2 linked regions of the Homo sapiens genome follow. The protein of the gene in region 2 interacts with the protein of the main gene of each other region in a biochemical or structural test. Each region holds a gene or a part of one and is shown on either strand. Other genes may lie near its edges.

Region 1 (3,651 bases), on a different chromosome or scaffold from region 2:
AGTTTCACAGGACAAATCTCCCTGAAGCCCATCCATCCCATGGGGAAGCGAAGGCCAATCTCGAGGTCCCTTCTGGACCCCACCCACTGCAAAGGGCTGGCGACCTAGAGGGGACTCTGGGGAACTCTTATAGGCCATGCACCCTAACAGAAGCCATGGGGGACCCCCACAAGCACACACTCACTGCTCTGTTGCCCCCACATACAGAGCAAATGTGAAGCTGACCTCTGCCATGGAAGCGATGGTAAAGAACATCAGATTTATCTGGCTTTACTATCGGCGCCTGGTATGTGTCAGTATCTCTCAATAAAGCTGGAGGGCACATGACACCTGGGGCTCCTGGGTCATAGCAAGTTTGTTTTGGGTCAAAGCATATAAGTCAGGCAAGCTGCTGTGTTCTCCTGGGTTCCTTAGGCACTTAGCCCTTGAGTCTCCCTGCTTGTCTCCAGAATGCAGGCCCTACACTCCCACAGCAGCCTCCCTGTGCCACCAGTGCATTCACCTGATCACACAGCTGCCTGGGCCATCTTCAGGAAACAAAGTCTGGTCATGCCAAGACTTTGCTGAAGCCCTCTGAAGGCAGCCATATCTGGAACTCCATTCAGCTCATGCCCATTACCTGCAAGCCTCTTGTGACCTGGCCCTGCCCAGCCCTCCTCATCTGGCCATGGTTTCATGAGCACAGAAGGCACTTTCTGGCCTCAGGGCCTTGTACTCTCTGTCCCGTGCCTGGGATGCTCCACTCCTGGTTTTCTGCAAGGTTGGCTCCTTTTTAAATTTCTGGTCATTCAAATGTCATTTCCTTGCAGAGTGTCAGTCCCTTTCTGCACATGCTCACTGTAACCTGCTAGGGCATCCTAGTCCGCCCTTTCTGCATGTGGTCAGGGTTAACCTGCTGGTGTCCCGTGGCTCTCTTCTGCACGTGGTTATTTTTACCTGCTGGTGCATCACAGCCCCTTTCTGCACTGGTCACTAACCTATTAGCATGTTGTGGCTCCTTTGTGGCATTTGTCACAGTTTGGGTTTGTCTTATTATTTGTTGTCCATTTCTCCCCTCGAGAATTTGAGCTCCCCAAAGGGAGGGGCATCTGGAATGTTTTCTTGTTCAGTGATAAATCCTGGGCACAGCATGGCACCTGGCACATAAAGGCAATCCCTAACTTTGTTGAGTGAATGATTAGTGACGGAATTGCTGCCCCATTCTGAGGGTCCAGGCATCCTTGTTGGTGTATTCCTCGTTACTCTCTAGCCTCAGCCTGGCACTAGGCTTATAGAAAGTAGCTCAGTGAACTCCTGACTGGTGAATTCAGGAGACAGTGGGGCTGGGCCATGATTCCAAGTCTGAGTGTCCAGTCAGTCTCCTAGGCCTGCACCTGAGGAGCTTCCGGCTCTGAGCTTTTGCAGCCCCAGGCTCCTGTGCTGGGACCCCCAGCGTGCAGCACTGTCAGGCCTCTGGGCTGGCAGCTGTTGTCTTGGCATTCTGCTGAGGAGGGACCACTGACTCTTCACAGAGACACACTCACTCTTCCTTCCCCAAACCAGTTTCCTTCACTTTGATCCAGTTTGAGATCAAAGATGAGACTACCTCCTGGAATAATCAGGCCAGGTGGTCCTGGAACACTTTTCTTAGAACTGACGCCTCCATTCTTGGCAGGGTGTTTTCAGATCACCCTGGGAGATGCCTCTAATATGATGTACTTTTTTCTCTTTTAACATTATGTACTAAAGAGAACTACTTCATCATCTTCCTTTCGTCGGCGTATTTGTAATTAAGACGCCTGCAAATTCCATGTCATCCTTGATTTCAGGGAAGAGCTTTGAGCATCAGAGACTCATTCACGGCTAAAGTTAAATCAAACATACCCAAGGAAAACAAGGATCTAGTTGTTTAATCTTCAGCTGCTTCCTTTGATCCCATCCTGGATTCTTGCAAGAAGTGAAAAGAAAGGAAGAATCCAAGGATGAGAGGAACTTTAAAAGGGTCAAGTTCAGCTGAGGTTTCTGCCCATTTCATGAATGAACATTTGAGGAACAGCTCTAAAAATTGTCCCTTTCTTGGGCAGTCAAAACTTGTTTCTATGGAAATGGGATTTTTACACCACTGCTTATCTGTCATTTCAAAAAGCATGGCTGGTTTTCAATTTTCCCTAGAAAAACTCATTTCTTTTTCCTCGGTAGGAATTCCCTTCATCCAATTTCGTGCCTCATTTTGCCCAGGGCCATTCACAGCTCTTAATTTTTAGATGCATTTAAAGGTGGTGGTGAGTCGCCCAGGCGGTGAACTCAGGTGAGAGTTCTTAAGGCTCCCTCTGATCCTCAGATGATCAAATGCCCAGGGCCCATCAGTGAAGACCACGCCCAGCAAAGGAGACATGCTGAGAGATAGGTCTGTGGCTGAGAGGAGACAGCCCTCACGGCAAGGGGGACAGCTCTGGTGCCCTGGCAACTCCGTCCTGGACCCCCCCCCAGTGGTGGTTCTGACTGCCCCCCACTTGTCCTTGTCAGTGTGTCCCGTGGCCGTGGCGCACCTCCATGGGGGCTTTGTCCCAAGTGCTCAGCCTGGTGAGGTTATTAGATCCGAGAAGCAAGGGCGAGGGAGAGGATTGAGCCTAGTTTAGTGCCTACAGTGAATGCTCTTCATCTTTGTCCTCTGGCCTCAGGCCATCCTGTTTCTAGTCCAACTCTGAGTGTAAAGTGTAACCCTTGGCCGGGAGCAAGAAGGGAACAGACATGGCCTCTGGGAGCTTGGCAGTGCCAGTGAACCCCTAGTGACTAAGCCTGCTGTTATCGGCCGCAGGGTGACCTCCTAGTGACTAAGCCTGCTATTAGCCTCTTGCTGACCAAAGAGCTTGGCCTAAGGACAGTCAGAGGCCTGAGAGCAGCCCCGCCCGCGGCAGTCTCAGCCTTGCAGGTGTTCGGTTTGCCAGTTGGTCATTCCTTCCAAGGCAGTCCCTGGCTCCCACAAGGTGAGGAGTCAAACCCTGAGCCAGCTCCATGGGTTGGAGGTCTAGTTCCGCGTCTTCCTGTGAAGTAGCCTCGGCTCAGTAGCTTCACCGCCCTGCCTTCTGCTTCCTTGTTCACACAGTGGGAAAAATTACAGGCCCTGGCTCAGGGGTGCCGTGGAATGTAGTGCCTGGCGTTTGGTGAATGCTTTGTGTCATAGGTGTGGGCTCCTGTTCTTACTGTAAGAGAGCCGGGCTATAAATAACAGGACAGCTGGGAGGCGGCCGTTCTTGGCACTCACGCGTGGGTCGGCGGTGGTATGCAGCTGCTCTCCTTCAGAGTACAGCAGGATTCTGCCCTATGAAGTCTGCTTTGAGCCAGCCCCCTCTCAGGGTCCCCCTGGAGAAATGCAGGGCAGAGAAACCCTAGAGACGCTGCAAGTTGGGGTCCCACTCCCCTGTGGGCACCCCAGGAGCTGGCCCAGCCTGAAGACGAGTAGAGGGGATGAGCTGTCCAGCTGCCACTCAGGGAGAGGTCTCCATGGACGGGGTCCCTGGACTCCCCGAGTGGAGTGCTCAGGGGAGCACAGCTTGGTGCAGGATGCCCTGCTGACCTGAACAGTGGATTCCTTCCTCCAGCCCTAGAGCCATTCCCTTCCAGCTCCTTCCTTACTGCAGACATTGCTTACAAGGGGAAGTGAGAGTCAGG
Region 2 (3,651 bases):
AAATGAGTCGTGATCTTTGTGACGTCAGCCTAAGAATTTCTACTGGGAAGCTCAGGTGAAGCAGAAAATTTTTGAGTTCCACCACACCAGTAATTCCAGAAGATGCTGTCGGCAGACTGAGCAGCGCCTCCCAGACCCAGTGGTGGCAAGATGCCTTAAGTGCCTTAATACAAATTTGCTTCTCTGACCGTTTCTGCTTTCTTTATCTCCCTGAGGGCACCTTGAGCAGAATAAAATGCATGGCATTAGTACCATGTAAATATGCAATAGAACAGTAAAGTTTTGGCATTTCCAATTAGATTCCACTTGAACTGAGGGCAGTGGCATGCTCACATAGAAGTGTGTTTGATTCATATTCTGCTTAGTCCTCTCTTAGATTCAATGATTATAATACATTATTTCTATCTCAAAACCAACAATCACTGACTGCAACCAATATTACTTAATTAAGTGATAGTTTGTATATATGCCAACTCTTGACCTTTACTGTCTCTGCAAATAAAGCACATTTTAAGAAAAAGTATGGAGCCAAATGTTTCCCAGAAACCATCACTCTGTTAACTCTTTTCCTTTTTTGAGAGAACTAGATACTGGATGGAATTATAGATGCTTTGTCTCATTTTCTTGAAGTGATGTAATTGCATATAACTCTGCTCTTCTCTACTCCAAGGTTCCAGGTCATAACTTTGAGAAAACAGTTTCGTTTTGGAGATGAATACATAATTGTAACTTTCTATTGCTTCTTCAAGCTGAAACAATATTTTATTAAAAAGACTCTCCGTGTGTACAGCCCTTAACATACTCTTATCTCATAATTGAAATACACACTTGCTATTCTAGTGTGATACTTTCTGTTCTTTTTTTAAGTAGCTTTTACTGGGGACGTGGGTGAGAGAGATGTAACATATATTCCTTGTCTATGATTTAGACAGTACATACAAAATAAAAAAAGAAATAATTATCACACATAATCTCTTAGCTCTTAATTTTACCATTAATATTATAATATACCTCTCTGTATGTTGGATGTATTCAATATTTTGTGTATGTTTTATCTATATGCCTGCATATATTCACTCACTTTAGAAGACACAAAAATGAAATAGCAATAATTCTGTCCTAAAGGACCTAGTAATCAAATTAAGTAAAATAAAATATGGTTAGAGAGAGAAAGCAGTAAGTAATTAGAAAGCTACAGAAAATTTCCTGTGAAATTTCAGAAGCAAGAGAAATTGTCTTTGGCTGGGAAATACAGGGAAGTTAGCACCTGTATATATATGTATAGATAGATAGATAGATAGATAGATAGATAGATAGATAGATAGATATAGATATATGTATATATATTAGTTCTTTGTAAAATCATTAGCATTATGACACTTTGTGCACCTTGTGGCCTCAGAAATAAGAGGCTATAGATATAGATACAGGCTATACTTTCTGTGCCTAGCACGGTAGCAGGTGCAGAGAAGGAACTCGTGAAATATTTGTTGAATTTACAAACGAGTGAACCCAATTTTCCACTTTTAGATATGTAACCATTTAATTAACTCATGGTTGGATAACAGGAAGTTACTTTAAATGACTGACCCATTTGATTTAATTTGTACTAGAATTCACTTCCTGTCCTCTGGCCTCATTCTGGTCACAAGGCAACTGGTAAGTCCAGGCAAGCCCACCTCTAGGCAGGAATGCAGAGCAGGGGGAGGTGAACCACGTTCCAGCATTGCTGGAACGCTAATGCTGCCCAACACTGCCTCCTCAGGCTCCATCCAGATCTCATTGGCTTGTTCAGACCAATTCTACCTCTCCTATACTTCTAGTGCTGTTGATTTCTCCAGGACTTAATTGCTGACCTATCTAATTCCCTGTTTCTCCAGCTTCATTGTTTCTGGACAAAATGAAAAAGTAAATAACCAAACTTATTAAATAATGATCTTATTTTACACACAATCTAAGTCAATAATCTCTGGCCCCAGGGCCTACATAGATTTGTAACAACCATCTTCCTCCTCAAGTTGTAGTTTATTATGTTCTACCAAAATTACTGAACATCCCAAGTAAGACCTCCAGGCTTCTAGAACTGTAATTTTTTCTTTCTTCATAAATTCTCTCCCTCGTTGCTATTCATGACTTCTCTGTTATTCTCCTCTTAAGTCCTTGAGAAAATTTGCTCAGATGCTTATATCTACCAAGTCTTTATAATTTAGGAGATTTTCACAAGGGCCCTAGCAGGTTTTAGTTTGCTATGAATCATGGTGAATGGGAATGGGAAGATGAGGATGAAAAACTATTTGAATTCATAGATCTATGCCTCACTTCATTGTTTTTGTTTGTTTATTTGTTTTGCTCTTTTTTTTTTTTTTTTTTTGAGACAGAGTCACACTCTATCACCCAGGCTGGAGTGCAGGGACACAATCTTGGCTCACTGCAACCTCCATCTCCCAGGTTTAAGTGATTCTCGGGCCTCAGCCTCCCAGGTAGCTGGGATTAAAAGTGTGTTCCACCACACCCGGCTAACTTTTGTATTTCACTTCACTGTTAATACTAACAATGGGACTTTTACCAAAGCATGTTCTTACCTTTCAGGTATTTAAACTGTTTGAATATTTTATTTACCCAATTTTTAGATCAGACATGAATAATATTATTTCCTACTCAAATATTATGTGCTGCCTATGAATGAAAATTTTATCCTGTTTTTATTTTCTTACATTAAATTATATTCAACTTTCTTCCTTCCTAAAGTCAGAAAATAATATAAGAGCCTTGGAAACCCTTTCATCACATCTTCTGAAGTCTTCTGAAGCTGGCTATGAGTTACCTCAGCATAGATCAACAGTGTGTCACTATAACTACATTGCAATTATTTGCCCTCTTTAATGATATCTTTGATATTTCTTATGAATGCAAATAAAGAGTGAGCCAGTTGGAAAGCTACTGCAATGATTTTTCAGTCCATCACTGCCAATTTTCACTTTGTAATTATAAGAAGCTGCTATCAGTGGTTCTTCAGTTCCAAATATCCCCAGTGTCTGGTGAGGGAAGCAAGCTGTCTGGTTCTTAGATGGTCTTTTTGCTATGCTCTGACATGGTGGAAGGGTCCAGGCAGCTTCTGGGGTCTCTTTTATAAGGGCACTAACCACATTCATGAAGTCTCCACCATCATGAACTAATCACCTCCTAAAGTCCTCACCTGTTAATACTATTGCATTGGGGGTTAAGTTTCAACATCTAGGTTTTGTGGGGACACAAACATTCAGACCACAACAGAGGGAGGCCCTCTAGTAGGCTGACGCAATAATCCAGGAAAAAGATGATGGTGGCTTGGCTTAGGGTAGTAGCAGTGGAAATCAAAGCTTTCGAATTTGGAATATGTTAGTGGTACAGTGAATAGGACTTACTTTTGGATTGAATTTGGCTTATGATGAAAGAGGGAAAAAATGAGACTAAATATTAGTTTTGATGCCTAGATGGGAAAGAATTGTGGAGGAGGAAATTTTAGAGCATGGGAGAAAGTCAGTGGTTCTTTTTCAGCCATGTAGATATCGAGATGCCTGGTACACATCTAAGTAGAGATTAGGTAGGTGGTGACATGCGTCTGGAGCTCAACAGAGATTATGGGATGGAGACAGATTCGATTACCTGGAA

Evidence for each region. Proteins that work in one complex are often made in the same cells at the same time.
Region 1: the proteins of RASSF6 (region 2) and SHANK2 interact in a test that uses a peptide from one of them, tested with the Homo sapiens proteins (one large-scale study listed by IntAct).

The regions. Positions count from the first base shown.
Region 1 is NC_000011.10:70,479,507-70,483,157, forward strand, and holds part of SHANK2 (SH3 and multiple ankyrin repeat domains protein 2), read right to left. Parts: intron 1-3,651. UniProt on the Homo sapiens protein: Seems to be an adapter protein in the postsynaptic density (PSD) of excitatory synapses that interconnects receptors of the postsynaptic membrane including NMDA-type and metabotropic glutamate receptors, and the actin-based cytoskeleton.
Region 2 is NC_000004.12:73,613,899-73,617,549, reverse strand, and holds part of RASSF6 (ras association domain-containing protein 6), read left to right. Parts: intron 1-1,613; coding exon of another isoform or gene 1,614-1,659; intron 1,660-3,651.